3 linked regions of the Homo sapiens genome follow. The protein of the gene in region 2 purifies or fractionates together with the protein of the main gene of each other region. This does not show direct contact. Each region holds a gene or a part of one and is shown on either strand. Other genes may lie near its edges. The genes, in order: HSPB8, KCTD13 and FLNC.

Evidence for each region.
Region 1: the proteins of KCTD13 (region 2) and HSPB8 purify together in Homo sapiens (affinity purification with mass spectrometry; 3 studies listed by BioGRID and IntAct, with this or other methods). This does not show direct contact.
Region 3: the proteins of KCTD13 (region 2) and FLNC purify together in Homo sapiens (affinity purification with mass spectrometry; 3 studies listed by BioGRID and IntAct, with this or other methods). This does not show direct contact.

The regions. Positions count from the first base shown.
Region 1 is NC_000012.12:119,191,967-119,195,275, reverse strand, and holds the end of HSPB8 (heat shock protein beta-8), read right to left. Parts: intron 1,578-3,309; coding exon 1,418-1,577; 3' UTR 530-1,417; downstream 1-529. UniProt on the Homo sapiens protein: Involved in the chaperone-assisted selective autophagy (CASA), a crucial process for protein quality control, particularly in mechanical strained cells and tissues such as muscle. Displays temperature-dependent chaperone activity.
Region 2 is NC_000016.10:29,912,608-29,916,258, reverse strand, and holds part of KCTD13 (BTB/POZ domain-containing adapter for CUL3-mediated RhoA degradation protein 1), read left to right. Parts: intron 1-3,651. UniProt on the Homo sapiens protein: Substrate-specific adapter of a BCR (BTB-CUL3-RBX1) E3 ubiquitin-protein ligase complex required for synaptic transmission.
Region 3 is NC_000007.14:128,836,848-128,840,498, reverse strand, and holds part of FLNC (filamin-C), read right to left. Parts: intron 3,340-3,651; coding exon 3,242-3,339; intron 3,102-3,241; coding exon 2,951-3,101; intron 2,863-2,950; coding exon 2,744-2,862; intron 2,513-2,743; coding exon 2,435-2,512; intron 2,233-2,434; coding exon 2,070-2,232; intron 1,897-2,069; coding exon 1,696-1,896; intron 477-1,695; coding exon 339-476; intron 1-338.

The sequences.
Region 1 (3,309 bases), on a different chromosome or scaffold from region 2:
GCGGGCCAGGTCAGCCTTGGCTTGCTCTGTCTTCCCGGCCAAGTGCATTTTCATGTAACGCTCTTTTGCCTTCTGCTTCTCAATCTCTTCTCGTTCTCTCCTCGAAAGCTCCTTTGGCCCATCCAGATACAGTTGTGTGACCTTTTTGGTTGTCTGTGCCACCTGGTTGGGGTTCTCGATGTTGAAGAGCCCTTCAACGCCTTTGCGGTTTTGCTGGTAGTCATCTTCTTCATCCTCACTCTCATCTGAGTCTAGAGATTTCTTCTCCTTTTTGGGGTCACCTGCAGCCCCATCTCCACCTTCTTTTTGCTCCTCTTCTTCCCTGGCCTTCTGCTTCTCAGCCTGCAGCTGTACGTCGATCTCCTCAGGGCTCCTATACTGCCTCGCCCAGCCTTTGTGGCCTCCCTTTCTCCCTCCTTTAGGCATCGCGGCTCCGCGCAACATTACTTTAAGCCACAGCATTGCTAACTGATGTTGTATATCTAGGTGGTATTACATTTAGTTCCTCATTAAAAGAACCACACAAGGCTAAGAACGTCAGCTCCTTTATTATTATTATTATTATTATTAATTATTTACTGTTATTTACCCCTAAACAACAGCATAACTCAAATAATAATGACACACACGTCCCGCCCATATACACAATACCACTAGCCTATCTGTCAGGCTATCTGGCCTTTGCTTGGTTCCTGATGGAGCTGTCTGGAGACAGCTCCCTCTGTAAAAATCCCGACTTAAACACAGGGGACAGAAGAAAGGGGGGACCTAGGTCAGATCATAAACTGACAGGCTCCCAGCGTCCTTAGGGAGTGCTAATGTGGAAACTTTGAGAACGTGCTGGACACATCTGGGCAGAGGGCAGAAGGCACTGTTTGTTTTTATGTGGTTGATGGATAAATTCCATATGGGGATATAAGACCTGTATATCACCCATTTTAGGCCAGGCATGTGGAAGCACAGTGGGGTTAGCTACTGGGTTTCATTAACCAAACCATGCGGCATGGTTTGGGAGCCATGGGAATCGGGAGCCCAGAGTAGGAACCTGGGTGATGGGGGAGGTCCCCAGAGAAAAGTAACCCTTGCATTCACTGCAAGTAAGATACAACGTGAAATGTTAAGTCCCCTTTTATGTGTTTTGCAACTATAGAATGTGCAACATTTTCATCAAGATAGAAAAGGTAAAGAAAGCAAAACTAGTATTTTGGCCTAACACAACCAAGCATGATTTGCCAATTGCGCTATCCTGTGGAGAAATCTACCACTACACTATCCAGGGAATCTGTGGTCAGTCCTCACCCCCGCACCCTCTAACATTTTACTTGCACTAAATCTGAGTTCAGCTAAAGTAATGTATCCTGGAATCAGAGAAGCCCTAGGGTTGGGGACAAAACAAGGATGGGCCAGTACTGGCATCTCAGGTACAGGTGACTTCCTGGCTGTCCTGGGGAAGCTCGTTGTTGAAACTGCTCTCTCCAAATGTTGAGTAAGGAGGGACCTGGGGAGCTTCGATGATCAGCAGACCCTCTGGGGAAAGTGAGGCAAATACTGTCACAGGATCCACCTCTGCAGGAAGCCTAGGAGAAACACACGATTTTATTCATTTATTGTTGTTAATATTGCTTAAACATTCTTTTATTCACTTGAGAGGAAATATTTTTGATAAGAGCTTAGGCTTTGGGGACATACAATGTTGGGTTTGAATCCTGGCTCTACCCCTTTCTAGCTGTGTGGTCTTGGGAAGATTATTCAGTTGCTCTGAGCTTGTTTTCTCATCTGCAAAATGAGGATAATAATACTGAACTTGTAGAGTATTTGAACTTCAGAGTCTGAGTATGCTTTGCAAATGGTAAAATGCTGTTTGAACAGTAGTTCTTAACTTAAAAGAGAGCTGTGGCCCACATATTTGGTCCCAGGTTGAAGTCATCACCTTAATACCCACTACTGACCACAATTACTAGCAGAAATGGCACCACTACCATCCCTTTATAGAGCGCAAGTAAGGTGTTATCATAACAGGCAACACATTTTCATCTGACATGTGCTTGCTGGAGAGTGCTTCACTACAAAATGCATTAATGGTGATGCAAGCACTAGGTACCTTGGTGGATAAAAGGGGCCAAGCTGGCCACATGTAGATTTCAGATGGCAACATACTCGATGGTATTCAAAATAAGCCTTGATTTTGTTCATACCCTAAGTATCTCTGATGTGGTTTGGCTGTGTCCACCTAAATCTCATATTGAATTGTAGCTCCCATAATTCCCATACGTTGTGGGAGAGGCCTGATGGGAGATAATTGAATCATGGGTAGGGGGCAGTTTCCTCCATACTGTTCTCATGGTAGGGAATAAGTCTCACGAGATCTGACGGTTTTATAAGATTTTTTGCTTGGTTCTCATTTTCTCTCTTGTCTGCTGCCATGTAAGACGTGCCTTTCACCTTTTGCCATGATTGTGAGGCCTCCCCAGCCATGTGGAACTGTGAGTCCATTAAAACTCTTTTTTTCATATATATATCAATTATGTAGTCTCAGGTATGTCTTTATCAGCAGTGTGAAAACAGACTAATACAATCACTTAGCAGATCATTATTATCTTGTTCTTCCTTTTATTTTTTTGGGACAGAGTCTCACTCTGTCACCTAGGCTGGAGTTCAGTGGCGCGATCTTGGTTCACTGCAAGTTCCGCCTCCCAAGGTTCAAGCAATTCTCCTGCCTCAGCCTCCTGAGTAGTGTGGATTACAGACACCCACCACCATGCCTGGCTAATTTTTGTATTTTTAGTAGAGATGGGGTTTCACCATGTTGGCCAGGCTGGTCTCGAACTCCTGACCTTGTGATCCACCCACCTCAGCCTCCCAAAGTGCTGAGATAACAGGCGTGAGCCACCGAGCCCAGCCAATTATCTTGTTCTTAAAACTCAGTTATAGACAATACTTGGTTGGAGTATTGTAAGAGGATGATTAAGAGGTAAGAATTAATATGCCCATTCTACAGATCACTAAACAGAGACTTGGGGGAAATCAAATGACAAGCTCAACAAGTGAGAAAGCATCGAAGATGGAATTTCTAAACCTAAATCTGGTCCAACTTCTAATAAGGTATTTTTATGATTTTTGGATTGCTTTGGGTGAATGAGACTATTGAGAATTTGGTTTCTTCAACAAACTATTAAAACTGTGAGGACATATTAGTGATCTCATTGGGGTGCCATTATTTTTTTTAACCATGAAATCCATGACCTTCTGAGTACTTTCTATGTGCCAGGTACTTTAGCTGAATCATATCATTTTGGTGTTAACAATAAT
Region 2 (3,651 bases):
GAAAAAAGGTGAGAAAGTCTGTTAATAAGAGTCCAGTGACCTTTAAGACAGCTGCAATAAGGGCTTGAAGAACAGTTAGGAAAATGCTATTGGAAACTGATGGAAAGGAGATCCTTGTGTAGCGGCAGAAAGTTTAGCAACACTGTCTCCTGCATTAGTGTGGAGGGTAGGAAATATACCTAAGGAACGGATGGTCTAGCTAAGGAGCTTTCCAGACAGAATGTTGAAGGTGCCACCTGGCTTCTTGCTGCTTATAGTAAAACTGAAGAGGAGAGAGTAAGTTAAAGAAAAAAAACACTTAAATGAAAAAGAGCCTGAAATTGTTGGGTTTGAAAATTCCCAGCCTTTCCAGATAACAAGTGATGTTAAAATTAACAAATGGCTTCCGTGCAAAGATTAAATACAAGGCATTAAATACAGGGAAATGTGGTCTAAAGGTCAAGCTGAGGATGTGATGAAAAAGTCCTTTGTTAAGACCTCAGAAATACCAACAAGATGCCTCAGAGGGGACTTCCAGTCGAATGAAATAATAATCACGCTTCTGAGAAGGTTAAAGGTGTTGTCTTTCAGCGTCTCAGCACAAGCCCAAAGTAGAGAAGGGCTTACCTTGCAGAGATTTTCTTTTTTCTTTTTCTTTTCTTTTTTTTTTTTTTGAGATAGCTCACTGCAACCTCCTCCTCCTGGGTTCAAGTGATTCTCCTGTCTCAGCCTCCTGAGTAGCTGCGATTACAGGTGCCCACCACCACGCCCAGCTAATTTTTGTATTTTTAGTAGAGATGGGGTTTCACCATGTTGGTCAGGCTAGTCTCAAACTCCTGACCTCAGGTGATCCACCCACCTCGGCCTCCCAAAGTGCTGGGATTACAGGCGTGAGCCACTGTGCCTGGCCACTTGCAGAGATTTCTAGGTGTGGCTTTTTTCTAATGTAGTGAACCCTAAGACATGCAAGATACCCAATAAGTTATGAAGAGAATTATATTGGCAGAGACACTGCCAGCTTGGACTGAAAGGGACAGAGCCAGTGCAAAAGGACAAGACGGCTTTGCACACCCAAACTTTTACAGGCAGGAAGCAGGCAGATGAAACTGTGGAGCTGCAAACATCTTTCATGGAAGAGGTGGGACGACTCAGGGAGAGCCATGGAGAATCATTCATGAACAGGAGTAGGCATCAAAGAGTTCCTAGCATTTCTCCAACTGGATTACAGAATTTCCACACACCAGTGACTTATATGTATGACTTATATGTGCCTCCTGTCCCCTGCCCCACTTTTTTTTTTTTTTGAGACAGAGTCTTGCTATGTTGCCCAGGCTGGTCTCGAACTCCTGGGCTCAAGTAATCCTCCCACCTTGGCCTCCTGAGTAGCTGGGATGACAGGCACACGCTACCACGCCCGGCTTCCCCTGCTTTTGAGCAAGAATGTCCTTACTGGTTATCCTGTGCCTGCCTCTACCACTGCACACTGGGAGTGTGGAGATGACCTGTCTCTTTAGCTCACAGGTCTGCAGATAGGAAATGCACTTAAGGGCTGGATGCGGTGGCTCACGCCTGTAATCCCAACACTTTGGGAGGCCAAGGCAAGTGGATCACCTGAGGTCAGGAGTTAAAGACGAGCCTGGCCAACATGGTGAAATCCCGTCTCTACTAAAGAAAATTAGCTGGGATGGTGGTGCATGCCTGTAGTCCCAGCTACTTGGGATGCTGAGGCAAGAGAATCACTTGAACCTGGGAAGCAGAGTTTTCAGTGAGGTGAGATGGTGGTGGCTCTGCACTTCAGCTTGGGAGACAGAGCAAGACTCCATTTCAAAAAAAAAAAAAAAAAAGAAATGCACTTAAGGAGCCATAGTTACGGAACTGCATGCTAGAGCCACATCCCCACCTGGACCTGACTGAGATGATGAGATTCTGTACTTTGAGCTGATGCTGTAATGGGATGATGGGGGATCCTGGAAGGTGGTGAGTATATTTGGCATGTGGGAGGGGGGAAATCACTGAGAGCCAGCGGTGGCCTGTGGAGCCAGCCACCAAGGCAGCCTGATGATTCTCGTCCCCTGGTGCTCGTTCCTGTGTGTCATCTCCTTCCTCACTGGATAGGACCAACAGACCTAGGTCATAAAAGACAATGGAGGGGCCCGGCGCTGTGGCTCACGTCTGTAATCCCAGCACTTTGGGAGGCTGAGGCGAGTGGATCACCTGAGGTCGGGAGTTTGAGACCAGCCTGGCCAACATGGTGAAACCCTGTCTCTACTAAAAATACAAAAATTAGCTGGGCGTGATGGCACACCTCGGTAATCCCAGCTACTTGGGTGGTTGAGGCAGGAAAATCACTTGAACCTGGGAGGCGGAGGTTGCAGTGAGCCGATATTACGCCACTGCACTCCAGCCTGGGCGACACAGTGAGACTCCATCTCAAAAATAAAAAAGACAATGAGGCTTCCACCTTGCCCTCTCTGGAATTATTTGCTCTGGAGAAGCCAGTTGCCATGCTGCGAGGATACTCAAGCAACCCTGTGGAGAGATCTACATGGCAGGGATTTGTTGTTTCCTGCCAGCAGCTAGTGCGAACTTGCCAGCCACATGAACAAGCTTTCTCAGAGTGCATCCTCTAGGGGCGGTCATGCCTTTGATGCCCACAGCCCCACTGACATCTTGGCCACAGCCTCAGAAGAGACCCTGTGCCGGAGCCACCCAGCCGAGCCACTGCTGAGATCCTGACCCTCAGAAACAGAAGTAATAAATATTGTTAATTTAAGCTCCTAAATTGGGGGCAGTTTGTTACACAGTGATAGATAACGAATTCATACTCCGTAATTCCCCTCGCACATTTGTGGTGTCTTTTTAAAAATACCAATTCTCATATACACAGTGGTCTGTTTCTGATCGCTCTGTTGTGTTTCTCAGGTATTTTTGTTTCTGTGCCCGAACTGATACCGTTCTCACTGTTGTGGCTTTGCAGCCTATCTTAATATCTGGCAGGGTCGGCCTTTCCTCTTTGCTCTTATTTTTAAAAACTGACCTAAGTTTGGGAGGATGGCTTGAGCCCAGGAGGTCAAGGCTGCTGTAAGCTGTGGTCATGCCACTGCACTCAGCCTGGATGACAGCAAGACCCTGTCTCAAAAAAAAAAAAAAAAAAAAAATGGCCTCAGTAATTGTAGACTTTTATTATTCTCTGTTAATTTTAGAGAGTCTTATGAGTTTCTGCAAAAAACAAATCTGGAATTTGTATTAGAATTGCGCATTGAGTTTTCAAGGTTGGGAGAAGTGAGAGGGATTTTGGCATGAAGATTCTAGAAGACAGAAGAGAAAGAAGCCCATGGGTTTGCTTCAGATTTCTTTCTCCAACGTCATCCCACCCAATGAAGTTCATTCACTCAACAAATATGTTCATTCATTCAACAAATACAGAGCATCAGCTGTATACTAGGTAGTTATTCCTAGGTGGGAAGAGACAGATCATAAACAAATACAAAAAGTTAGAAAAAGTCAGACACTAACTGCTGTGTAGAAAATGAACTGATAGGCCTGGTGCAGTGGCTCACGCCTGTAATCCCAGCACTTTGGGAGGCTGAGGCGGGCTGATCACCTGAGTTCGGGAGTTCATGACCAGCCTGACCAACATGGAGAAACCTCGTCTCTACTAAAAATACAAAA
Region 3 (3,651 bases), on a different chromosome or scaffold from region 2:
AGTCCCAGCTCCTCAATCCCCTCAAGGAGCCATTGGGACCCCGACCCAGCCCGAGGGCAGTGCTGTAGTGAGCAGTGCTGCAACTCAGGGCAGGGAACACTTGTCATCCCTGTGCATAACACCCCGTATAGCACTTAGGGTGGAGAGAATCATTCCTGGCTTGTAGACCAAGAAACTGAGGCAGAGAGGAGACAATGAGCCTGAGATTCTGGGGTGCCTCTGGTCACTGTGGAGCTGTGGTGCTGGCTGTCACTGCCCTCTGGGAGTCAGAACCACTGGCCATACTTCCCTTATGATCCCCCAGCCCCACCCTCACGACCCTGGGCTCTGGCACTCACTTGGCCCCTTGACCGTGACCTTGAGCTCCCCGCTGCCGGCACCCTTGGTAAACACCTTGAAGTCAGCCACCTCTTTCACGCGAACACCCTTGGGCTGCAGGCCTCGCCCAGAGGCGCGGCAGGCGTTGGGGTTACAGGCTAGGGGAGGAAGAGAAAGGAGGTTGGGGGTGCTGAGGGGCCTTGGACCACTAGCCCCCACCTCCCTGTGCACAGTCCTTCTAACCCCTCCCAGGCACAGGCAGTGGCCCACGGCCCTGCTCTGGAGCCCTTTGTGTCCCCAGCACAACCGGGGCTGCCGGGCTGGAGCTGGCTACAGGCCCCAGATCAGGCAGGTTACAAGAAAGTTTCCGAGCCAGTGCCACTGGGGAAATGCATGGCAGAGCCTGGGCTGAGAGTGGGCTCAGAGAGACAGGGAAGGCCCCTTTACCCAGCCCAAGGCCATCCATCTAGAGCCCTCTGGGCCTCTCAGGGCACCAAAGCAACCTTAGGATCTAAGTCATGCCACAAAACATCCAGCAATGCCACAGAACAAGGGCTACTTCATAGAACTCGAAGCCTGCCATACAACACAGGCAACGTGTGGACATCAGCCTACCACAGACCGTGGCCAGTGGCAATGAGCCCAGGCCTTGCTATGGAACACAGGCAAAGGAATGGGAATCTCAGCCTGCCACAGAATCCAGAAAAATGGCATGGGACCCACAGGTGCTACGAAACAGGACACGACACATATTCCAGGACTACCATGACCATAGGCGATGGCACTGCCCAAGGGGTACCACGGAACACAGGCAATGGCTCAGAGCCCAGATTTCATCATAGAAATCACCAGGCAAGTGGCAAAGACACTAGACCTGCCACAGAACACAGACAACGGCATGGAACCTGGGGCCTGCCACAGAATGCCAAGGAAGGGGGGGCGATTCCACACGGCCCGGGCCATGCCACACAGCACAGGTGAGGCCAGTCAGCTGCGGCCATGCCTGGCCCCGCCTCCACTGGAGAGCATTAATGTGGCATCACTCTCGGCCTGGTGGACGATGGGCACTGAGTGCAGGGAGAGAACAAGTGGGGCAGTCACCACCTGAGGGCTTGGCATGCAGGCAGTACTCCCTAGATATGCCCCCACCCATACAGCCCCGTCACTTCCGCTCAGCCCTCCCAGGGTGGCACATGTTCTGGGACCCTTCACTGTGGCCTCCCAGCTGTGCTCTTAGGAACTCCAGCCACCTTGGGGGTGGGATGGAGGACTCAGGGAGGGGGTCTCTGCAGACCCCCGCCCCAGCTCTTCCTCCTGCCCCTTGCAAGCCTCTGGCTTTGGTAAGGGCTACCGTGGGGAGCAGTGAAGGGCCCTTACCTTCCGACACATGGACAGGGAAGGGACTGCGGGTGATGGGGGCACCCGCAAAGGCCACATGCACGGTATGTGGCCCCTCCATGGCAGGTCTGTATGTGCAGCGGAACGTGCTGTCACCCTTGTCCTCCAGGGCCACCTCCACTGTGTCCCGCCGGCCCTGTGGGTCCACGATCACCACAGCAACATCGCCAGTGCCGGCCCCTGCCGAAAACAGAGGCTGTCAGCACCACTCTGGACACACACAGCTGCCCCGGTGCCCTCACCCTGAGGCTGCCCACCCTCTGGCTGGCATCCCTGTCCCAGCCTCCCCCCACCCCCACACAGCCCCACATGGTCAGGGGCTTTCCACCTGCACCCCCTGGGGCCCGTCCTACCCGCAGTGTAGATGTCAAAGTAGGTGGGTTTGTTGGCCACATTGCCCACAGGTTCCAGGCCAGGGCCACGGGCTGACACCTTGTTGGCATCTCCCAGGGCCATGCCCACGTTCACCTCAAAGGGACTGCGTTCAATGTTCTGGCCAGCAAAGAGCACGGTCACCTAGGGGTCAGAGGTCAAAGGTTAGCTTCTAGGGGAGAGCAGTCCTGAGAGGGGGCAGAGGGGCACAGCCAGGCCAAGGAGGGTGAGAGGCGGGCAGCTGGGGCTCTGGGCAGGCGCGAGGTACAGGCTGAGAGAGGGGTCCATGCAGCCGGAACCAAGGATGTGAAGAGCAGCGCAGGCAGGGGGGCCTAGAGGGAGATACCTTGTGTAACCCAGCGACCTTGGGCACATAGGAGACAGCATAGGTGCGATCCTTGTCATTGTTGGGAACCACCTTAGCCTATTAGGAAGGAAAAAGATTGGAAGCCTCTCCAATGACCATAGCCCCTCCTGACCCCACAGTGCCTTATGCACCCCAGCCCCACTCAGCCCCCATGGTGACACCTTCCCCAGACTGCACAGCACAGTGTGTGGCTCTGGCAGTCACCTCCGGGCCATTCCTGTTGTTGGCCCCACGCTCTCTGGTTCCAATCCCAAGTGAATCCCTCTGTCCCCAGCGGCCTCTGCATACCTCCTCGGTGTGGCCTTCAGGGTCCTCGATGTAGACCAGCACCTCGCCCACGCCCGCGTCCACCGTCTGCACGGTGAAGTGGGCAGGCTGCAGCACGGTGTTGCCCTGTGGCTCGATGCCTACGGGGCAGGAGCAGAGCCCAGGTTACTCAGGGAGAGCCTACATGTGCCCAGCTGCCCAGGAGGGCCGCCAGGGGCTCACACATACCAGGCCCATAGGCGATGGCTTTCTTGGGGTTCAGCTGCTTGGATCGAACAGGGGCACCAGGTTTGAGCTTGGCCTTGGGGAACTGGGACAGGTAGGTCATAACAGAATGCTCATCCACGTTGGGGTCCACAATCTCCTCAGGGGCAATGACCTGCGATGGAAAGGAGTGATGTCACATGGCGCCCTCTTTTCCCAGCAGCCCCAGTCTCCCCCTGCACCCTGGCCAGGTAAACTTACAGACCCAACCTCTGCCCCTGCCCCCTTTCCCCCCTGCCCCATCTGCGCATGTACCTGGGGCACCCCAAGCCAGTCGTCGGCCTGCTGCATGGCCTCCCGGGCGTTCTCCACGGGCTGGTTGGGGTCCCAGGCCTCCCAGTCGGGGCAGAGACCTGGAGAGGTGATGGAGGGAGACGATGGTGAGGGGCAGCCAGCCGGCCAGGATGCAGGGCATTTGTTCACCCAACACCCTCAGAGGCTGTGGCTTTACACCCCTTCCCACCAGCTCTAGGCCTTGACCAGCCAGGTTCCTGCTGACCCCATCAGCTTCGAGGCCCCTCACCACGTAGGAGCAGGACAGCCCTCTCCACCACCAACAATGAAGCCTTTCTGCCCTGGCTGACGCAGCCTGGCACCAGCCCTGCTGGCCGGCCTCCTGCCTGCCCAGGCCCCAGCTCAGACCTTGAACCCCAAACCCTGGGAGG